3 linked regions of the Homo sapiens genome follow. The protein of the gene in region 1 purifies or fractionates together with the protein of each later gene. This does not show direct contact. Each region holds a gene or a part of one and is shown on either strand. Other genes may lie near its edges.

Region 1 (7,901 bases):
TTTCATTCCAGGACCTGCAGTGGACTTCCACACTCATGAAAGGGAGACAGAAAAATAAAAGGTAGTTGACTGCTGACTCAGCTTATGACTTTATCAGCAACTAAGGCCCAGGAGGCAAGGGACAAGGAGAGACTCATTACTAGTAACTAACCTATTTATTTGCTCATTTAGTCAATAAATGTTCATTGAGCACTCATAACATACCAGGTACTTGGCTGGGCATTAGGGCTACAATGGTGAAAAAGACGGGACCAGGCCCTGTTTTGCTGGAGCAAACATTTTAACGGGGAAGACAAACCAAAAATAAAAGCAACAACAAAAATAAGTAAGGAGGCAAATAAAATAATTATGAGTTGTGATGATTACTGAGGATAATAAACTAGGCACTGAGTTACCAAATAAATGGACAGCCTATTTAGATGGGGTAGTGGGAAGTGAGGTAACATTTAAGCCAAGCCCTTAAGTGCAAAAGAAGTGAGCCATACAGAATAGGGATGAGGGAGGGGAAGAGCACTCTGGACTATCCAAAGGCCCTGAGGAAGTGCATGCTGCCATCAAAGACAGGAAAGGAGGCTGGAGTGTCTACAGTCATGTGGGAGAAGAGTGGCAAAATATTAGGCTGGCAAGCCAAGCAGGAGTCAGATCATGTAGGGCATAGGAGTTAGGATTTTATAAATGCAATGAGAAACCACTGAAGGCTTTAAGAAAGGGAGTGACAAGGCTGAATTCTGTACCGAGAAGCTCTGCTACTGGATGGAGAATGAGCTGAGGGAATGAGGGTAGAGGCAAAAGTGGAAGCAGAAAGCAAGAGTAGAAGCAGAAGAGGCAAGAGTTAAAAAAAAGGGTAAAGTGGAGGGGGTGAAGACTATTGCACTGAATCTAGAAAGACTTCCACTTAGTTTAGATGTTACTGTACAAGTGAAAGGAGAAAGAGCTTAACCTTTGTAAAAGCAGTTCAGTCACTGGACAATCAATTTATGGAGCTGAGCTAAGAGCTTGGAATATAGAGGTGTTTATAGCTCATGAGGATATAGTTACAATACAATAAAATAAAAGCCATAATTTAAAAAATGTATACAAGGTATACCCCTGGAGGAAGTGGAAGAGCTCATCCTAAATACAAGATTAAGTTTTTATGCATTGCCTGTAATCCACAAAGGAATTCATTTCACATATATTTACTAAGTGTTTACGAGGTGTCAGACAGCAAAGAGTGAAACAATGCAGAATTTGATGTGTCCCCACTGTCCTTCACCGAAATAAAAACATGGCAGAAAGAGCATAAAAGAGAATGTTTTCATTCATGAGAATGTTTTCATTCACGTCAGCATAATTAACAACAGCAACAAAGAGATCATGTAAATCACAAATCATGTGTGTTGTAAAATAAATCCCAAAGGATACCAATTACGATGACAAGAAAACAGAAGAAGACCTTAAATACCATGAGGAAACAGTCAAATCCAGAAATGGGGATGCACTACAGGAAGACTGGAAGAGCCTCCTTTTAAACAAGGCAATGGGATGGGAGGAAGGGAGGCAAAGAGTAAAATTGCCCTAGGTTAAGACTCAACTACATGCAGTGAGTGGTCTATGATTGGATCCTAGTTGGTACAAACAGGTATAAAAGACATCTGTGGGACAACAGGGGGTGGAAGGATTTAAACATGAACTAGGTGTTAGGTGAAGCGCCTACACTTAGTTGGGTGTGCTAATAATCTTGTGGTTATGTAGGGAAATGTCCCCAATTTTTAGAGATGCATTAGAAACTAGAGGTGACAAGTTATGAGGTTGGTGGTTTTTACAATATTTAAAGAAAACATATGCGACAAACATTGCATAATGTTGACTTATTAAATAAAAATTACGTGTATATAGGAAATAAGGCTTTTGACAGGGAGAGACCCTTCTCTACCTCTGGACCTCGGTTTCGCCGCAAAGCTCCGACCTCTCTAGGGGTCTCTCCCACCACCCTGTGAAAGGGCTACCTAGCTTGCCTTAGGTGGATAGCAAGGGAAGGGTCCCTGGAGAGCCTGCCCCCGCCCATGATTTAGTGTCTTATCCCCACATAACATAAAACTAAGCCTGGGGAAAAAATCAGGTTGCAGGCACCGATAAGGGAACTAGCACAGGGTGTTGTGCCTAGAGATATGCCCACGGCTGCATAGATAGAAAAACCTCGGGCCCATTTGGATAAAAACTTGCACAGAACCTCCAGCTCACTCAGATAAGGGAACAAGGCCTGACACATAATGCCTTTGTCCTTTGTATAGTCAGCAGGTTCCCAGGAAAAGTTTCTTCTCCTTTTGTGGGTATGGACACGGTGGGTTCTGGTAGGTTCCGGCAGGCGCTCTACTTTCCTTTATTAGGACTATAAGCCCAGCTTCTGTGAATCATCACCTCAGCCCCTGATTGGTCCGGGGCCAAACTTTCACTTCGGCTTCTGATAGGTCCTGGGCCAAGCTAAGCAGCAGCTATGAATCATCATTTCAGCTCCTGATTGGTCCCGGACCAAGCTGAGTCAAGCGTTCGCCAGGACAGCCCGCAGACTAAGCGCATTCCCTCTCCTTTCCAGTCCATAAAAACCCCAGAACGGGCCCCATAATGGGTACTCCCGGTCGGGACCCCTTCTCTGCTGGCAGAGAGCTTTTTCCTTTCGCTTATTAAACTTTCGCTCTAACCTCACCTTTGTGTCTGCGCTCCTTTATCGTCTTGGAGGCAGGACAAAGAACTCCGGGCGTTATCTCAGACAAAGAAAGGCTGTTTAATCTTCAGGATAAGGGGCGGGACCTCCACCTACTCCACGGGGGCTTCAGGCCAGTGAATGTGTAGGGGCGGGGGTCACGCCTGCGCAGACGTTCCCTCCCCGCCTACTCCAAGGCACAGACCTGAAATCTTCTGGGAACCTGGCGGGTCGCGACAAGGGGCCAAGACTCACCTTCGGGGCACCGGCAAGCTACGGAACAGGTGGCGGGGCTGCAGCACCCCAATGACCGATCAACCGCAAAGGCCGGAAATGCGTCAGCCGTTCTGAGCCCACTGGCTGAAGCCAGGCAACTCTTTCCTTTCTAGGAATTCCAGAGGTGGCTGCTGCTTGGTGACTCCCTTATTGCAAACCCCGGGGCCAAAAATCCCAGTCCCACTGGGTGCGAGGCGGAGAAATCCGGCGAGGCATTTCTATGGGGAGCGGCCCCCAGCATTTAGGAGTTAGATGGTCATCGAGACCCAAAACATTAGAGCCGGAAGGTGTTAGGAAGATATAAACGTAGAGAGCGAGTAACAGGAGGCAATTCCACGGCCAAACAGGTTTATTTACAGGAAAAGCCTGCGAAGAGTTCCAGTTAGGAATCTGGCTGAGATCCTGATCGCTTACAAGCTGAGGCTTTTATAATAAAGTTTCTGTTGGGGAGGGGTTGGGGAAGTGCTGGCTAGTTGGAACTGTTTGGACACTTTCCAACTGGGGACAGATGTGGTTAGGGCCGTTAGGCTCTGTTGCGGTTAGAGCTGTTATGCTCTGTTGAAGCTATGGACGGGGTTGACATTTGCTTTGTTTCTTGAGAACACAGTCATCAAGGTTGTAAAATGGCATCACTATTGTTAGTCCTCACAGAAGGGACTTCATACTTTTTCTGTCTCTAATACTTACCTATTCTTCCCCGAGTCTGTCCACTTCCTCTGGTCTCTTTGACATCACAAAGGAGAGATGGTAATGGTGGGGACGAGAATACAGAGTTGTTTTTGTTGTGGTTTTGTTATTTTGTGTTTTACACTCAAACCTCTGTCTTCTGGAATCCCAAAGTCTAGAAGAAGAGCGTGTAAACAAGTAACTGCGTAAAACAGACGTGCATGTGAAATGAAGTAAAATAAAATAAGTGCTTGTAAATCGATGAGAATAGCCTCTGGAACATGCTAAGTACGTATGTAGGAAATAAATGTATGTATTAGTTTGAATTCGTGGCGTGGAAGAGAGAGGAAAACTAATGGGGCAAAACAAGACTCAGCAGGAATCTGCCAGTGTACACTGGAAAAGGAGCAAAGGAAATAAATTTCTGGGAGAGGGAATCAAATGTACAAAAGCAGAACTGGGGTGAAATCCTTTGGTACATCCAAAGAACTGGGCTGATCAGCATGACTGGAGAGTGGTATATGTGGCAGGGGCACCAGCTCTTACTTTTTTTGGATCCCTAACCAAGGAATTTGAGCAGTCTGATCAAATTTACATCTAGAAATGTTATCTTGGCAGCCATGTGGGGATGGACTGTAAGGAAATGAGACTACAGGCAGGGAGACCAGCTAGGAGACTACTACAAGAATCCAGGGTAGAGAGAGTGAGGGCCTGAATCAAGGCAGTAGCAATAGAAATAGAGAAGACAGATAATACATGTTAAGAGGTTGAATTGATTTTTTACAACTCATTCATTAATTATATAGATTCCCATTGAATGCGATCTTTGTGCCAAGGGCTTGCTGGATATAATAATAATGAAGGACACAAGGTCCTCATCCTCATGGGGTTTATAATGTAACAAGGAATACAGACAGAAAGAGACCCAGCTTATACAATTCAAGAGACCTTATTTGAGAAAAGGAATACAAAATTACAAGTACAAACATAGATATGAAAATGGAGACTTAAGTCAGGTGTAATAGCTCACGCCTGTAATCCCAACACTTTGAGAGGCCGAGATGGGAGGATCTCTTGAGTCCAGGAGTTCAAGACAAGCCTGGGCGACATAGTGAGACTCTGTCTCTGCAAAAAATAAAAAATATTATCCAGGCACAGTTACTCATGCTATTAGTCTCAGCTACTGGGGAGGCTGAGCAGGGATAATCACCAGCTGCAGTAGCCATGATCGTGCCACTGCACTCTAGCTTGAGTGACAGACTGAGACCCTGTCTCCAAAATTAAATAAATAAATAAATAAAGAAGGAAAAAGAAAAAAAACAAAAATGGAGATTTAGAATGGAAAATAGGCCAGGCGTGGTGGTTCACGCCTATAATCCTAGCACATTGGGAGGCTGAGGCAGGCAGATTGCATGAGCTCAGGAGTTCAAGACCAGCCTGGGCAACGTGGTGAAACCCCATCTCTACCCAAAATACAAAAATTAGCCAGGCATTGTGGCACATGCCTGTGGGTCTGAGGTGGGAGGATTGCTTGAGCCTGGAAGGTGGGGTTTTCAGTGAGCTGAGATTGTGCCACTGCACTCCAGCGTGGCTGACAGAGTGAGATCCCATCTCGAAAAATAAATAAATAAATATAGAATGGAAAATACATTCTTTACATCACATTACAATTTTTTTTGTAATTGTAATGATAATTACAATTACAAAACGAGACAGAACAGGGTCTCGTTCTGTCAACTAAGCTGGGGTGGAGTGGTGTGATCACTGCAACCTTAAACTCCTGTGCTCAAGCAATCCTCTTGCTTCTGCCTCCCAAAATGCTGGGATTAAAGGTGTGAGCTGCTGCCACCACATCCAGCTATACTACAAATTTTAAAGTCTTCCAAATATCACAAACAAAAATCAGAAAAATAACAAAATATTTTTATTATTTAACTGCCTGACTCCTCTATAGTAACTCTCCCCTAATTTGTTGGCTTTATGTTCTTGGACTGCTTCTTTGTATGTTAATTTCATAATTTAAATTTTTCTAGAAAGAATAAAAAGTTAATGTAGCCATTCCTCTAGCATGGTTGATCAAAAGCTTTTTAAAATTGTTGACATTTGAGTAAACTTCTATCAAGTTTCTTTCAATTATGAGCTACAAGATTTCAGGACATTCAAATTTTTTTATGTGGGGACTAATCTGAGAATCTCTGTGTTGATGACACATTAACTAGTTGGTCTTAGATGTCCTCATTGTCAATGGCATATTATGATGTCTTTGTCAATATCAGTATTTTATGTAAAATGTGCAAGAAATTTAAATCTCTTTTCAATGTGTTCAGTGATTCACTTTTCTTCACTAGAGAATTAATCCAAGAGCATATTTTTTTACTGTATTCAAAGTTTAGCTTTTTTTCTTAATGAGTTGCTGATTTTATATAATTTGACATTGTTTCTTTTGTTATAATTTGCTTCCTGATGTCAGAATAATTTCCATTGATTTTATTATCTTTATTTCTTTTGTTTCTCACATTCCATTAATTTTTTTTGGCAGGGGAGTGGGGAAGGAGTCATGCTCTATTTCCCAGGATGGAGTGCAGTGGCTCGATCTCAGCTCACTGCAACTTCTGCCTCCCAGGTTCAAGCGATTCTCATACCTCGAGTATCTGGGATTACAGGCATGTGCCACCACGCCTGGCAAATTTTGTATTTTTAGTAGAGACGGGGTTTCGCCGTGTTGGCCAGGCTGGTCTCAAACTCCTGACCTCAGGTGATCTGCCCACCTTGGCCTTCCAATGTGCTGGGATTACAGGCATGAGCCACCACGCCTAGCCTCCATTAATTTTTAAATTTAAATTTGCTCTCAGTTCTTTAATAAATTATTTAATTTTGTAATTTAGCATTTATTGCTTAAATCATGCCAAAATATCTTTTCAAATTGTAGTTAAAATGACTTATTTCTAAGATAGTGTCCCCTTACCAGATGCTAAAATTCTCTATTGTTATTTCAGTGCCACTCAACAAGAGAAAAATAAGAGATGGGGAGTCAGAAATGGAAACAAACAGTGGTTTAAACACCTGTTGCTAAAATATCCATTTTTTCCCCTCAAATTTTGCAGGCATATGAACCATGTAAACACATTGCTAGGTATCATTCCAGGCCAGGGCATTTGAAGAAACTGCAAGTGTAGAATCCATTTTTTCCCCTCAAATTTTACAAGCATATGAACCATGTAAACACATTGCTAGGTATCATTCCAGGCCAGGGCATTTGAAGAAACATGCAAATGTAGAATCACTTACACTTTATAGACTTAATCATAAACCCACTTCTGAATAAGTTAAGTGCTGCAGTGGAAATAGATAGGAATCTGATGACTGTTACAGTAATTACAATACCCATCTTTAATTTATCACAGCCTAATTGGAAATAATATTGTATCACTTCACATTTTAGTCTTAGTTGCATATTTAACAATTTACATTTCACATATAGACAGAAACTTATGACACTATTATTCCTTTGCTCTTGCCCATTGATATGGTTTTGCTGTGTCCCCACCCAAATGTCATCTTGAATTGTTCCCATAATCCCCACATGTGGTGGGAAGGGCCCAGTGGGAAATAATTGAATCATGGGGGCGGTTTTCTCCTTGCTATTCTCATGATACTAAGGTCTTATGAGATCTGAGGTTTTATAAGGGGTTTCCCCCTTCACTCTGTTCTCTTCTTCTCTCTCCTGCTGCCATGTGAAGAAGAACATGTTGCTTCTCCTTCTGCCATGATTGTAAGTTTCCTGAGGTCTCCCCAGCCATGCTGAACTGTGAGTCAATTAAACCTCCTCTCTTTATAAATTACCCAGTCTTGGGTATTTCTTTATAGCAGCATGACAACAGACTAAAACACCCATCTTTTGTAGTATTCTTATATATTTTACTTCTCTGTACATTATAACTGCCAGCTTAAAATGATATTATTTTTGCTTTAAATGATCACTTGTTTTTTAAGGAAATTAACTAAAAAGCAAGGCTTTTATATTCACATACATATTCACCATTCTGATGCTCTTAATTCCTTCTTGTAGATCTGAGTTTCCAGCTGTCACTTCCCTTCAGACTGAAGTTTTTTGTTTTTCTTTAGGGTTTGGTTTTGGTTTTGGTTTGGTTGGTTGGCTTGCAGTGCAGGTGCAAGTCTGCTGGAGAAGTATTTTTCAGCTATCATTTAATAGAAAATGTCTTTATTTCACTCTTATTTTTGAAGGACATTTCCACTGGATTTAAAATTCTGGGTT
Region 2 (7,025 bases), on another chromosome or scaffold:
AAAGGGCTCAATTCAACAAAAAGAACTCATGATCCTAAATATATATGCAAGCTAATACAGGAGCACCCAGATTCATTAAACAAGTTCTTAGAGACCTACAAAGAGATTTAGACTCCCATACAATAATAGTGGGAGACTTTAACACCCCACAGACAACATTAGACAGATCATCAAGACAGAAAATTAACAAAGATATTCAGGACCTGAACTCAGCTCTGGATCAAGTGGACCTGATAGATATCTACAGAACTCTCTACCCAAAAACAAGAGAATATACATTCTTCTCATCGCCACATGGCATTTATTCTAAAATTGATCACATAACTGGAAGTAAAACACTCCTCAGTAAATGTAAAAGAAGTAAAATCATAACAGTCTATCAGACCACAGCACAATCAAATTAGAACTCAAGACTAAGACATTCACTCAATACCACACAACTACATGGAAACTGAACAACCTGCTCCTGAATGACTCTTGGGTAAATAACAAAATTAAGGCAGAAATCAAGAAGTTATTTGAAAGTAATGAGAACAAAGAGACAATGTACCACAATCTCTGGGACACAGCTAAAGTAGTGTTAAGACGGAAATTCATAGCACTAAATGAACACATCAGAAAGCTAGAAAGATTTCAAGTTAACCACCTAACATCTCAATTTAAAAAATTAGAGAACAAAGAGAAAACAAACCCAAGCTAGCAGAAGACATGAAATAACTAATATCAGAGCAGAAGTGAAGGCGATAGAGACAGGAAAAACCCTCCAAAAAAATCAGCAAATCAAAAAGCTGGTTCTTTTTAAAAATCAATAAAACAGACTGCTAGCTAGATTAATAAAGAAGAAAAGAGAGAAGAATCAAATAGACACAATAAAAATGATACAAGGGATCTCACCACTGACCCCATGGGAATACAAACTACCATCAAAGGATACTATAAACACCTCTATGCAAATAAACTAGAAAATCTAGAAGAAAGAGGTAGATTCCTGGACACATACATACTCCTGAGACTGAACCAGAAAGAAGCTGAATCCCTGAATAGACCAATAACAAGTTTGGAAATTGAGGCAGTAATAAAGAGCCTACCAACCAAAAAAGCCCAACCAGATGGATTTACAGCTGAATTCTACCAGAAGTACATAGAAGAGCTGATACCCTTTCTTTTGAAACTATTCCAAACAACTGAAAAGGAGGGACTCCTCCATAACTCATACTGTAAGACCAGCATCATACTGATACCAAAGCCTGACAGAGATACAACAAAAAAGAAAACTTCAGGCCAATATCCCTGATGAATATCAGTGCAAAAATTCTCAATAAAATATGGGCAAACCAAATACAGCAGCACATCTAAATGCTTGTCCACCACAATCAAGTTGGCTTCATCCCTGGGATGCAAGGCTGGTTCAACATATGCAAATCAATAAACATAATTCATCACATAAACAGATCTAAAGACAAAAACCAAATGATTATCTCAATAGATGCAGAAAAGGCCTTCAATAAAATTCAACATGTCTTCGTGTTAAAAACTCAATAAACTAGGTAGTAAAGGAACATATCTCAAAATAATAAGAGCTATTTATGACAAACCCACAGCCAGTATCATACTGAATGGGCAAAAGCAGGAAGCATTCTCCTTGAAAACTGTCACAGTACAAGGATGTCCTCTCTCATCACTCTTATTCAACATAGGATTGGAAGTTCAGGCCAAGGAAATCAGGCCAGAGAAAAAAATGAAGAGTATTCACGTCGGGTGGGTGCAGTGGCTCATGCCTATAATCCCAGCACATTGGGAGGCCGAGGTGGTAGATCACTTGAAGTCAGGAGTTTGAGACCTGCCTGGCCAACATGGTGAAATGCCAAATCTACTAAAAATACAAAAAAAATTAGTGGAGTATGGTGGCAGACGTCTGTAATCCCAGCTACTCCGGAGGCTGAGGCAGCAGAATTGCTTGAACCCAGAAGGCGGAGGTTGCAGTGAGCTGAGATCACACCGCTGCACTCCAACCTGGGCGGCAAAGTGAGACTCCATCTCAAAATAAAGAAATAAAGAGTATTCAAATAGGAAAAGAGGAAGTCAAATTATCTTTGTTTGTAGTTGATATGATCTACATCTAGAAAACCCATTATCTCAGTCCAAAAGCTTCTTAAGCTGATAAGCAACTTCAGCAAAGTCTCAGGATATAAAATCAATGTGCAAAAATTGCTAGCATTCCTATATACCAACAACAGGCAAGCAGAGAGCCAAATCATGAATGAATTCACATTCACAATTGCAACAAAAATAAAATACATAGGAAAAGGCCAAGCATGATAGCTCACGCCTGTAATTGCAGCACTTTGGGAGGCCAAGGCAGGCAGATGGATCACCTTGAGGTCTGGAGTTCAAGATCACCCTGCCCAACATGGTGAGACCCTGTCTCTAGTAAAAATACAAAAATTAGCCAGGAATTGTGGTGCGTGCCTGTAATCCCAGCTACTCAGGAGTCTCAGGCAGGAGAATTGCTTGAACCCAGGAGGCGGAGGTTACAGTGAGCTGAGATTGTGCCACTGCACTCCAGCCTGGGTGACAGAGCAAGACTCCATCTCAAAAAAATGAAATAAAATAAAATAAAGTAAAATAAAATACCTAGGAATACAGCTAATAAGGGAAGTGAAGGACCTCTTCAAGGAGAACTACGTATCACTGCTCAAAGAAATCAGAGAGGACATAAACAAATGGAAAAACGTTCCATGCTCATGGATAGGAACAATCAATATCATGAAAATGGCCATACTGCCCAGAGAAATTTACAGATTCAATGCTATTCCCATTATACTGACAGTCTTCACAGACTTAGAAGAAACGATTTCAAAATTCTTATGGAACCAAAAGAGACCATATAGCCAAGACAATCCTAAGCAAAAAGAACAAAGCTGAGGCATCACGCTACCCGACTTCAAGCTATACTACAGGGCTACAGTAGCCAAGACAGCATGGTACTGGTATAAGAACAAACACATAGAATGATGGAACAGAATAGAGAACTCAGAAATAAGACCACACACTTACAACCGTCTGATTTTTAACAAACCTGACAAAAACAAGCAATGAGGAAAGGACTCCTTATTTAACAAATGGTGCTGAAAGAACTGGTTAGCTATATGCAGAAAACTGAAACTGGGCCCCTTCCTAACACCTTCGACAAAAATTAACTCAAGATGGATTAAAGACTTAAATGTAAAACTCTAAACCATAAAAACCCTCGAAGAAAATCTAGGCAATACCATTCAGGACATAGGCACAGGCAAAGATTTCATGATAAAAACGCCAAAAGCAATTGCAGCAAAAGCAAAAATTGACAAATGGGATCTAATTAAACTAAAGTTTCTGCACAGCAAAAGAAACAACTATCATCAGAGGAAACAGACAACCTACAGAATGGGAGAAAATTTTTGCAATCTATCCATCTGACAAAGGTCTAATATCCAGAGTATACAAGGAACTTAAGCAAATTTACAAGAAAAAACAACCCATTAAAAAGTGGGCAAAGGACACGAACAGACACTTTTCAAAAGATGTACATGTGGCCAACAAACATATGAAAAAAAGCTCAACGTCACTGATCATTACTGGAATGCAATTCAAAACCACAATGAGATCAGAATTGCTATTATTAAAAAGTCAAAAAACAACATGCTGGTGAGGTTGTAGAGAAAAAGGAACACTTTTACACTACTGTGTAATTAAATTACACTAGTGTAAATTAATTCAACCACCATGGGAGACAGCATGGTGATTCTTCAAAGACCTGGAGGCAGAAATACCATTTCTGGGTAAATACCCAAAGGAATATAAATCATTCTATTATAAAGATAAGTACATTTGTATGTTCAGTGCAGCATTATTCACAATAGTAAAGACATGGAATCAACCCAAATGCCCATCAATGGTAGGCTAGATAAAGAAAATATGGTACATATACACCATGGGATACTATGCAGCCATAAAAAGGAATTAGATCATGTCCTTTGCAGGGACATGGCTGAAGTTGGAAGCCATTATCCTCAGCAAACTAATGCAGGAATGGAAAACCAAACACCGCATGTTCTCACTTATAAGTGGGAGCTGAATGATGAGAACACATGGACACAGACAGGGGAACAACACACACTGGGGCCTACTGGGGGTGTGTGGTAGAGGGTAGGGAGAACATCAGGAAGAATAGCTAATGGACACTGGGCTTGATAGATACATGATGTCATGATCTGTGCAGCAAACCACCATGGCACACCTTTACCTATGCAACAAAACTGCACATCTTGCACATGTACCCCTGAACTTAAAATAAAAGTTGAAGGAAAAAAATGCATTATGCCACTTCAATGTGATATACTATTTTGCAGTCATTAATATAAAATACTAAAAATATTTTTGATATCTCTGTAATGAAAATAACAAAATATAAAATAACAGTTTGGGTGAAATAATTTAAAATATGTAAACATGTAGAAAAAATATAACATTAAAAAGTGTTAGCATGAGAAAAATGAGATTATGGGTGGCTATTATTTCTTTTACAATTAACTTTATTTACGTTAAACTATCATTTAAATTCAAGTGGAAAAGAAAAATTTCTTCCCAACAGCAAGATTAATAAAAAATGCACAAATAAACATCAAGTTACCTTATAAATAAATTTCAAAAACAGTAGTATACCTTAGTATTTCCTAATTAGTCTTAGTACATCAAAATAGAGCTGCTACTATATAAATCTTTATAATTTCATTATTTGGTTTAGTAAAATAATTTCATTATTTGGTAAAAAAAAAAAATTCATTTCAAATAGATTTTTATTTCCTTAATACATTTACCTCTAAAGGATGAAGGTTCCTGAAGAGCATTACTTGCCAATCTAGCTGGTCCACAGAATACCAATATAGTGACAGGCGTCACTGCTGAACAACATCTAATATTAGCTATTCTATGGGCTCTGGTCATTTCATCATAAATAAGCCAATCTGTGGGCAGTGCCTTAATTGCTGCAGCTTGACCATTGGCTGGAGGAATCTATTAAGAAAATAAATTTTAAAAATTGTTAATTGTGTTTATCACCTAGTTTATTGGAAATACTTTTAAAATGTAAAGTCTCTCAATGAAATAGATGATGTATATTAGTACGTAAGCAAAAATTAAAACAAGTCATCGCTCATGTAGTTCGTACAAAAGTACTCATTACTTAACATGTTACCTTTTCCAACTCTAAAATTTATAAGTTTTGTTCCAATATTTAATGATATATATATATATATATATATAACTAATTAATTTCTTAAAGCAGGCAGGTATTTGGAGCATTTTTCATTGATAGTGAACTACCTAAATTAGTTTCACCTCAAAACCCAACAGCATTCAAAATCTTTTACCTTTTTATATTGAGGCTGACTGAGAACTGAAGCAGGATGAAATCGTACTTTTTTCTCCTTTGGCCCTGTCAACACTAGATTCTCTCTGTCCACGTGGACTAAATTAGGATACATGCCTGCCACCAATGCAGCTTTAACGACAGCCCAATTCTCAGAGTTTGTGTTAACGTCCCGAATGTCACCACCACCTCGTGCTCTAACAAAACCTAGAGGGGAAAAAAACCACACCAATTTTTCTATTGTGCAAAAGATACTTTTGTGTATTTTTTCCAAAAACTTGTACAACTCATGTAAATTTTGTGATATTCAAATTTCACGATAATTAATAGAATCTCCTCTGGAAAGTTGTTTAAAATATGAACCACCCCTCCCCACCCTAAAACAGATACAGAACCAACATTCTAGGGAAGTGTAGATCTGCTCAGGTTAGATTAAGTATAAGAATCACTTGGGGCTTAAATTTTTTTAGATCCACATTCTTGCAATAAAGTTCTTCATAATCTGCTGCCAGAAACAAACTAAATTCATAGCTGGAAACCCAAACCATTCTTCTGACTGTTATTAACAACATTTTGGTTATGATAGATACTAATTCTGTAGATGAAGTCAAGTAAATATATGGTAATTTTTGCTTGAGTTTCAAAAGTCCTTCATATTTCCTTATGTTCAAGTCAACTCTTAAGTCCTCTGGTTCATTCCTTATATTACTCTGGCACTTCAGCTAACCCATGAATCCAGGCTCTGGTACTATTCTTCTGACTACCACATCAATTTTTTTTTGCTACTCAAAAAGGCAATTCTAAAAGGTAATAGCAATACTAGCATCCTCTTCAAAAAAAAAAAAAAAAAAAGGTGACTTCAAGTATTACTAGCTGTTTTTGTGTTCCAAAAATATGAAGAGCAGCATTCATATCAATTTTTTAAAATTTCTATTTCACAGAACTAAATAAGTATTCATTAATGGTGATAAAAGAAAATAACTATAAGATCTAAATTGATCTCTGCCAACCAATACAAATTGTTCATTGCCAACAGTATCACAAGCATATAGATTCTGTCCCTAGATTTCTCAAATACACCTCCTGCAATAGCATTTTTTCATCAACAAGCAAAAGTTGAAGACATATCGAAGTCTACAAATCATGCATGAATATAAGATACACAACATGATAATGTCATAAAAATAATAGATGGCATCAGTTAACATAAGAAATACTATGAAATATGGGCAGGGTACTCTCAGTAACTTAAATAGGCTCTTTGAGGGAAAAACTTTACCTGATGCTCTAAGTTGACCAAGCAACTGTGTTCTCATGCCTATGATTATTTCCATAGTAGCCTGTGAAAGAAAATTCTTTTCACAAAAGGCTCGCTCCCACCCATCACTTCGTGCTTTTTGCCAGGCCTATAAAAAGAGAATAATTGCATAACAAGACACATTTACTAATCGCTTCTTAGTGAGGCAACAAGTAACTACAAATCACTACACGAATTCCTCGACGTGAATTTGCCTTATTCTAATTTTCTATAAAATCTAAGACTTTATGATCAAATAATATTTATCATTAATTTATACTCAAATGCTAAAAAAGCCATTGAGTTTATAAAATCGCA
Region 3 (7,025 bases), on another chromosome or scaffold:
AAATAAGACAGAGTCCTGCCTTCAGGACACTTCAGTAGAGGGAGTTAAACAAGTAAACAATAAAGTGCAATAATGTGTTATAGGAAGCACTGAGCAATGTGCTTTGATGTGGATTCTTTTGTTTAATCTTCATAATAGCTTTAAGAGCTAGGTACTTTACCTTTATTCCATAGATGAGGGATCTGAGGCGTAGAGAAGTTAAAGTCACACAGCAAAGATGTTGTTAAATTGGGATTTGAACCCTGCCTATGGGACTCCAGGAACTATAATGATAACCACTGTTATTGCCTTCCTGGAATTTCGTACCATTAAAAAAATCAAAATTCGTCACAAAAGGTATATCAAGTATGTATAAAACATTTGTTTTAAGTTTCAAAAACCGATTACTTAAAATAAGCTGCGTTGTAACTGCCTTTGGGGAATTTTTCCGCATAGGCTGAACTGACTGAGCCATCTAAAAATAGGAGGCCAGTGAAGCCTCTACTGTTTCCCTGGTGAATTTCACTCAAGTTTTCATTGCTCTAAGGACTTTGAACTGCATTAATAATCAGGATGGTCACTCTTGAAAATGTCCCTTAACCTATCTGGTATATATGAATGCCTCTAGAACTCTGAGTGCTATATACTAGGGGAAGTTTCATGGGGCCTTGGGAAGCAGAGGAGCACACTGCTGCTAAGTGGTTATCAAGAGCAGTGTTGAGGGAGTTGTGTTGTCTTAATAAAGTTTGTGGTTATTATGTTTGTGGTTGGTTGCCTGTATTTTGAATTCTCATAGCATCTCTACAAGGTATGATTTATTATCATCATTGTATAAAGGGAGAAACCAAGTATCTGAGAGGTTAATTTACTTATTTGTAGTCATGTAGCTAATTAGCGTCAGAGCCAATATTGTCTAGCTCCAAAACCCATCTTCTTTCTGTTTTACTGTGATGGAGGCAGTGGGATATTGGGTTTGAGTCTCAGGTATAGTCCTAGCTGGAACAGTAGATTCAGAAGGCATTGGCATAGAAGGCAGCTGAAACCACTGTAGTGGTTGAGATTGCCCAGGGAGACTGGTAGGTTGAGTGCTGACAAAAGCTGAGGATAGATTTTTGGGTTCCGGAGGACACGGTCCATGTCTCATGCTTTTTTTACAGAGTAAACTTTCAGTGAACATTGGTTATTTGTGATCTTAAGGGTCCTTATTTCTAAACTTAAGTGTTCTTAAGTGTCATTATTTCTAAACTCTGGCTTTGATATTGCTCCATTGATTCAGTTCCATATATTGTATTGCAAGTGCCCATCTCCTGACCTGGAGGTGTTATATTTGTCTTTCCAGATTACCTAAAACCAGATCCATGGATGATCTTCTTTCTGCCTGTGACACAAGCAGCCCCCTGACTCGTACATCCAGTGACCCTAACCTGAATAACCACTGTCAGGAGGTCAGGGTAGGCCTGGAGCCCTGGCACAGCAATCCTGAGGGATCAGAGACAAGCTTTGTGGACTCTGGGGTAGGAGGGCCTCAGCAAACTGTAGGAGAAGTGGGTCTTCCTCCTCCTCTGCCCAGCAGCCAGAAAGACTACTTGAGCAATAAACCTTTCAAGAGTCACAAAAGCTGTTCTCCAAGTTACAAACTGCTTAATACCGCAGTGCCTCGGGAAATGAAGAGCAACACCTCTGATCCTGAGATCAAAGTCCTAGAAGAGACTAAGGGACCAGCTCCAGACCCTTCTGCCCAGGATGAGCTGGGTAGGACTTTAGATGGCATAGGGGAGCCACCTGAACATTGTCCTGAAACAGAAGCTGTCAGTGCACTCTCCAAGGTCATTTCTAACAAGTGTGATGGAGTTTGTAATTTTCCTGAGTCTTCCCAGAACTCTCCTACAGGTACGCCCCAACAGGCCCAGCCAGACTCCATGCTAGGTGTGCCCTCCAAGTGTGTTCTTGATCACAGCCTCAGCACCGTTTGCAACCCACCGAGTGCTGCCTGCCAAACTCCTCTAGACCCAAGCACTGACTTCCTCAACCAAGATCCCTCAGGGTCTGTGGCAAGTATCTCCCACCAGGAACAACTGAGTTCTGTGCCGGATCTGACCCATGGGGAGGAAGACATTGGTAAAAGAGGAAATAATAGGAATGGGCAGTTATTGGAAAATCCTCGCTTTGGGAAAATGCCATTGGAATTGGTCCGGAAGCCAATTTCTCAGAGCCAGATCAGTGAGTTCTCTTTTCTAGGGTCCAACTGGGACAGCTTCCAAGGGATGGTGACTTCATTCCCAAGTGGGGAGGCCACCCCTCGGCGGCTGCTTTCCTATGGCTGTTGTAGCAAGAGGCCAAACAGTAAGCAGATGCGGGCCACAGGGCCCTGCTTTGGGGGCCAGTGGGCTCAGAGAGAAGGTGTGAAGTCACCTGTCTGTTCTAGTCATTCCAATGGACATTGTACTGGCCCAGGAGGAAAGAACCAGATGTGGTTGTCCAGTCATCCAAAGCAAGTCTCTAGCACAAAGCCCGTTCCACTGAACTGCCCTTCTCCAGTGCCTCCTCTGTATTTGGATGATGATGGACTCCCCTTTCCCACGGATGTGATCCAGCATAGGTTACGGCAAATCGAAGCAGGGTACAAACAAGAGGTGGAGCAGCTACGTCGACAGGTGCGTGAGCTTCAGATGAGGCTGGACATCCGTCACTGCTGTGCCCCTCCAGCAGAGCCCCCCATGGACTATGAGGATGATTTTGTAAGTAGTCACCAACTGCCATACACCCATTATTTACTCTGTTCATCCAGCCTTCCCTCCATTCAGCATTTATTCGTTGGGTACTTGCTGTGTGCCACTGAGTTAGGTGCCTGGGCTATAGGATGAAAAACAAGTAAGCAATTAGAATGATGTTTTTAAGTGCTATGATTGAGGAGGCATCAGGTGTTAGAGGGCTGGAGTGGAGTGAAACGTCAAGGAAGACTTTCTTGAGAAGGTAATGCTTGAGCTGAGTGCTGAAGAATGTGTGATACTTAGCCAGGTAGACAGTGAAAACAAAACACCATTTGCAGAAGCGTAGTGGCAATAGATACTCCAATGATATGGCTTAAAAAGATGGGACATGCGAGTATATATGTGTACATGCATGCATACACGCTTACACTGGGGCTATGAGAGACAGTCAAATAGGGTGGTGGGAGGTGACATTGGAGAATTAGGTGGAGATTACAAGGGTCAGGTTGAGTGCCCTTCTTGTTTGGATTTTACCCTTAAGGCAATAAAATTTTAGGCCAGTGCACAATATGATCAGAGTTGTAGTTTAAGAAAATGACTCTTGCAACAATGTACAATTTTTTTTTTTTTTTTTTTTTGAGACGGAGTCTCGCTCTGTCACCCAGGCTGGAGTGCAGTCGTGCAATCTCAGCTCACTGCAACCTCCGCCCTCCCGGGTTCACGCCATTCTCCTGCCTCAGCCTCCTGAGTAGCTGGGACTACAGGCGCCCGCCACCATGCCCAGCTAATTTTTTTTTTTTGTATTTTTAGTAGAGATGGGGTCTCACTGTGTTAGCCAGGATGGTCTCGATCCCCTGACCTCATGATCCGCCCACCTCGGCCTCCCAAAGTGCTGGGATTACAGGCGTGAGCCACTGCGCCCGGCCCAACAGTGTACAATTTTAATGAGGCAGTTGAGACCCAGATTGGGAGGCTGGTAAGGTCATTTTGGAATAATCCAGGTGAGAGATGAAGACTATAGGCTGTGCAGTGTTGGGCAGCCTCAGGTTCTGGCACCATAGTCCTTGGGGAGCTTCTAGGAGCCAGCTTCCTCTCCATGGTATCTTGCCATTTACACAGACACTTTCCTTCCTTCTGTTAAGGTGCTCCCCACTTGCCTGCTTCTCACTTCTCTGGTGCTTTAAACAGGAGTCAGCAAACTTTTTTTTTTTTTGTAAAAGGCCAAATAATAACTATTTTAGGTTTTGTGGGCCATACCGTCTATGTTGCAACTACTCAGCTCTGCTATTGTGCAAAAGCAGCCGTAGCCAGGCACTGTGGCTCACGCCTGTAGTCTTAGGACTTTGTGAGGCCGAGGTAGGTGGATTGCTTTAGCCAAGAAGTTTGAGACCAGCCTAGGCAACATGGTGAAACCCCATCTCTACAAAAATTACAAAAAATTAGCTGGACATGGTGGTGGACGCCTGTGGTCCCAACTACTCAGGAGGCTGAGGTGGGAGGATCTCTTGAGTCCAGGATGTTGAGGCTACAGCGAGCCGTGATCATGCTGCTGCATTCCAGCCTGGGCAAAAGAGCGAGACCTTGTCTCAAAAACAAAACAAAAAGCAGCCATAGACAGTAAGTAAATGAATGAATGCAGCTGTGTTCCAGCAAAACCTGATTTACAAAAACAGGCAGTGGGCTAGTTTGGCCTGTGGGCCATAGCTTGCCAACCCCTGGTTTAGAACATAACAAGAGTCTTTCTATGCTGTGGTGTAGCATATCGGTAAGAGTGTAAATCTGAAGCTACAATACTAGGTTCAAATCCCAGCTTTACTACGTATCAGCTCTTTCTCTGTGGCTTCATTTTCTTATTTGTAAAATGGGGATATTAGTAGTATACATTGTAAGACTGTCATAAGAAATAAGTTCATGTGTGTAATGCACTTAGCACAGTGCCTGACACATGGTAAACAGTAAGCGTTAATGATGATGAAGATAATTTGTTGTCTTTGCCTTTTCATCAGACATGTTTGAAGGAGTCAGATGGCAGTGATACTGAGGATTTTGGCTCTGATCACAGTGAAGACTGCCTTTCAGAAGCAAGCTGGGAACCTGTTGATAAGAAAGAGACTGAGGTATGTTTAGGCACATATGTGGTGGGTACTTACGTGAGCCAGTGAGTCATCATATTTTCCAGAGATGAATGACATGCTGTAGACTGAGCTGTCCCCCAGAGGAGTGTCAGCCTGGTAGGCAAATGGTAGCCAGTTATGAAGATAAGCCTTGTCTCTTTCTGCTGGGGTGCTTTCCTCATTGCAATGTTGCTCTTCCAGTCTGTCAACAAGGACCAGGAATTTTTCTTTGTGCCTTCTATTAGGTGACTCGCTGGGTTCCAGACCATATGGCATCACACTGCTATAACTGTGACTGTGAATTCTGGTTGGCCAAACGAAGACACCATTGCAGGTAAGATGTTTTGTATGATTTAGTATGACAAAAAACAGGGCAGGCCAGGCGCAGTGGCTCACACCTGTAATGCCAACACCTTGGGAGGCCGAGGCAGGCGGATCATGAGGTGAGGAGATTGAGACCATCCTGGCCAACATGGTAAAACCTGTCTCCACTAAAAATACAAAAATTAGCTGGGCGTGGTGGCGCATGCCTGTAATCCCAGCTACTCTGGAGGCTGAGGCAGGAGAATAGCTCGAACCAGGGAGCTGGAGGTTGCAGTGAGCCGAGATTACGCCACTGCACTCCATCCTGGCAACAGAGCAAGACTCTGTCTCAAAAAGGACAAAAAACAAAAACAAAAATAGTGTAATACATATGTATAGAACTAAGTGGAATTAGTTTGGAAGTGGACACCTCTTTATAGAAACTATTTTTGTTTGTCCCCAACTTTTCATTTAGTATCACTCATTCTCAGTATATTGGCATTTCTTAATATTAATTAATTAATTATTTTTTTATTAGCGATGGGCTCTTGCTATGTTGCTCAGGCAAGTCTCAAACTCCTGGCCTCAAGCGATTCTACTGCCTCAGCCTACCAAAGTGCAGGGATTACTGGTGTGAGTCACCCTGCCTGGCCAGTATATTGGCATTTCTGATGAACTCTTCCCTCTTTCTGCTTTGACAGAAATTGTGGGAATGTATTTTGTGCTGGATGCTGCCACCTGAAGCTGCCCATTCCTGATCAGCAACTCTATGACCCAGTTCTCGTCTGTAACTCATGTTACGAACACATTCAAGTCTCTCGTGCCAGGGAACTCATGAGCCAACAGCTGAAGAAACCCATTGCTACAGCTTCCAGTTGAATGCCGGGGAGAAACCTGTCCAATTTTAGCAGGTTTGAAGGGAGGATCTTCTTCAGTTGTAGTTTGGAAGGTTCCTTGGTGTGGCTCATGAAATCACAGAGCTCAGAGATACCATCTTGAGAAATCCTCCTTGGTATCATGAAACTGGAGCAGAGGAATTGCAATTTAGCAGGAGGTCCTCTACTGGTGATACCCTCACCTTGGGGTAATGGTCCTAACCCAGACCCAGGGTCTGGAAGCTTAATGTTGAGTTGGTGACTCCAGCCTCTTTCTCCTGGAGGTCACAAGATGATGATTGCGTAGATGTTGCCTGGTGCAAAGTGCCCCAAACAGCAATAGAAAGGCATATGTATAACCAAACTCCAAGTGATAACCAGACCCATCTCTCCTCCACCTTGACAAAAGCAGATTATAGTATACAAGGTAGGAATTCCTGTCCTATTTGAGATGAACTATATCCTGTACCTCTGTGCTCTGTGTCTGCATGAAGGCTCAGCCTTTAGAGGCACTCCTTCTAGTTGCATTAGTACTGTCTTTCTGTGGAGTTTGGTTTGAAGACTGGCTCAGCAAGTGGAGGTTTCAATGTATTTTTCAGTTGGCTCATCAGCCAGCATTGGTGAATATTCAGTTTAGGGGAACAGTTCTAGGGAGTGAGACATTTTTGGGAGCAGAGGAAAACTCTGCTGATGTTCGGTCCTGGCAAACATTGAGTTATTTTGAGCTGTGAAGGCAGTCGTCTCTGTTACACAGTGGCAGCTCTTGAGTTATGCACTGTGAAGAATGAGAAGGGAAAAGCAAAAATTATCCTTGTGAAATATCTGCTGATTGTGCCCTACTCTTTGCACCTGACTTTTCCTAGTTGTCCTGGTGCTAACACAGGAGCTACACCTTGATCCTCTCCTGGCATGAAAATAAAACAAAGGTTTTCGTTGTTGTTGTTCCATTGCCCATTTCCCCCATGTTGTCTTTCCCTTGGCTGATGCCTCCTCTGGGTCACATTGCTTCTTATCCTGAACACTTGACACCTTGAGGGTAGAAT

Evidence for each region.
Region 2: the proteins of ZSCAN31 (region 1) and YTHDC2 purify together in Homo sapiens (affinity purification with mass spectrometry; 2 studies listed by BioGRID and IntAct, with this or other methods). This does not show direct contact.
Region 3: the proteins of ZSCAN31 (region 1) and MTMR4 purify together in Homo sapiens (affinity purification with mass spectrometry; 2 studies listed by BioGRID and IntAct, with this or other methods). This does not show direct contact.

The regions. Positions count from the first base shown.
Region 1 is NC_000006.12:28,333,144-28,341,044, forward strand, and holds the start of ZSCAN31 (zinc finger and SCAN domain-containing protein 31), read right to left. Parts: upstream 3,006-7,901; 5' UTR 2,939-3,005; exon of another isoform or gene 2,213-2,938; intron 1-2,212.
Region 2 is NC_000005.10:113,565,684-113,572,708, reverse strand, and holds part of YTHDC2 (3'-5' RNA helicase YTHDC2), read right to left. Parts: intron 6,817-7,025; coding exon 6,690-6,816; intron 5,618-6,689; coding exon 5,412-5,617; intron 5,056-5,411; coding exon 4,860-5,055; intron 1-4,859. UniProt on the Homo sapiens protein: 3'-5' RNA helicase that plays a key role in the male and female germline by promoting transition from mitotic to meiotic divisions in stem cells.
Region 3 is NC_000017.11:58,490,624-58,497,648, reverse strand, and holds part of MTMR4 (phosphatidylinositol-3,5-bisphosphate 3-phosphatase MTMR4), read left to right. Parts: intron 1-1,318; coding exon 1,319-2,717; intron 2,718-4,696; coding exon 4,697-4,807; intron 4,808-5,049; coding exon 5,050-5,138; intron 5,139-5,808; coding exon 5,809-5,986; 3' UTR 5,987-7,025. UniProt on the Homo sapiens protein: Lipid phosphatase that specifically dephosphorylates the D-3 position of phosphatidylinositol 3-phosphate and phosphatidylinositol 3,5-bisphosphate, generating phosphatidylinositol and phosphatidylinositol 5-phosphate.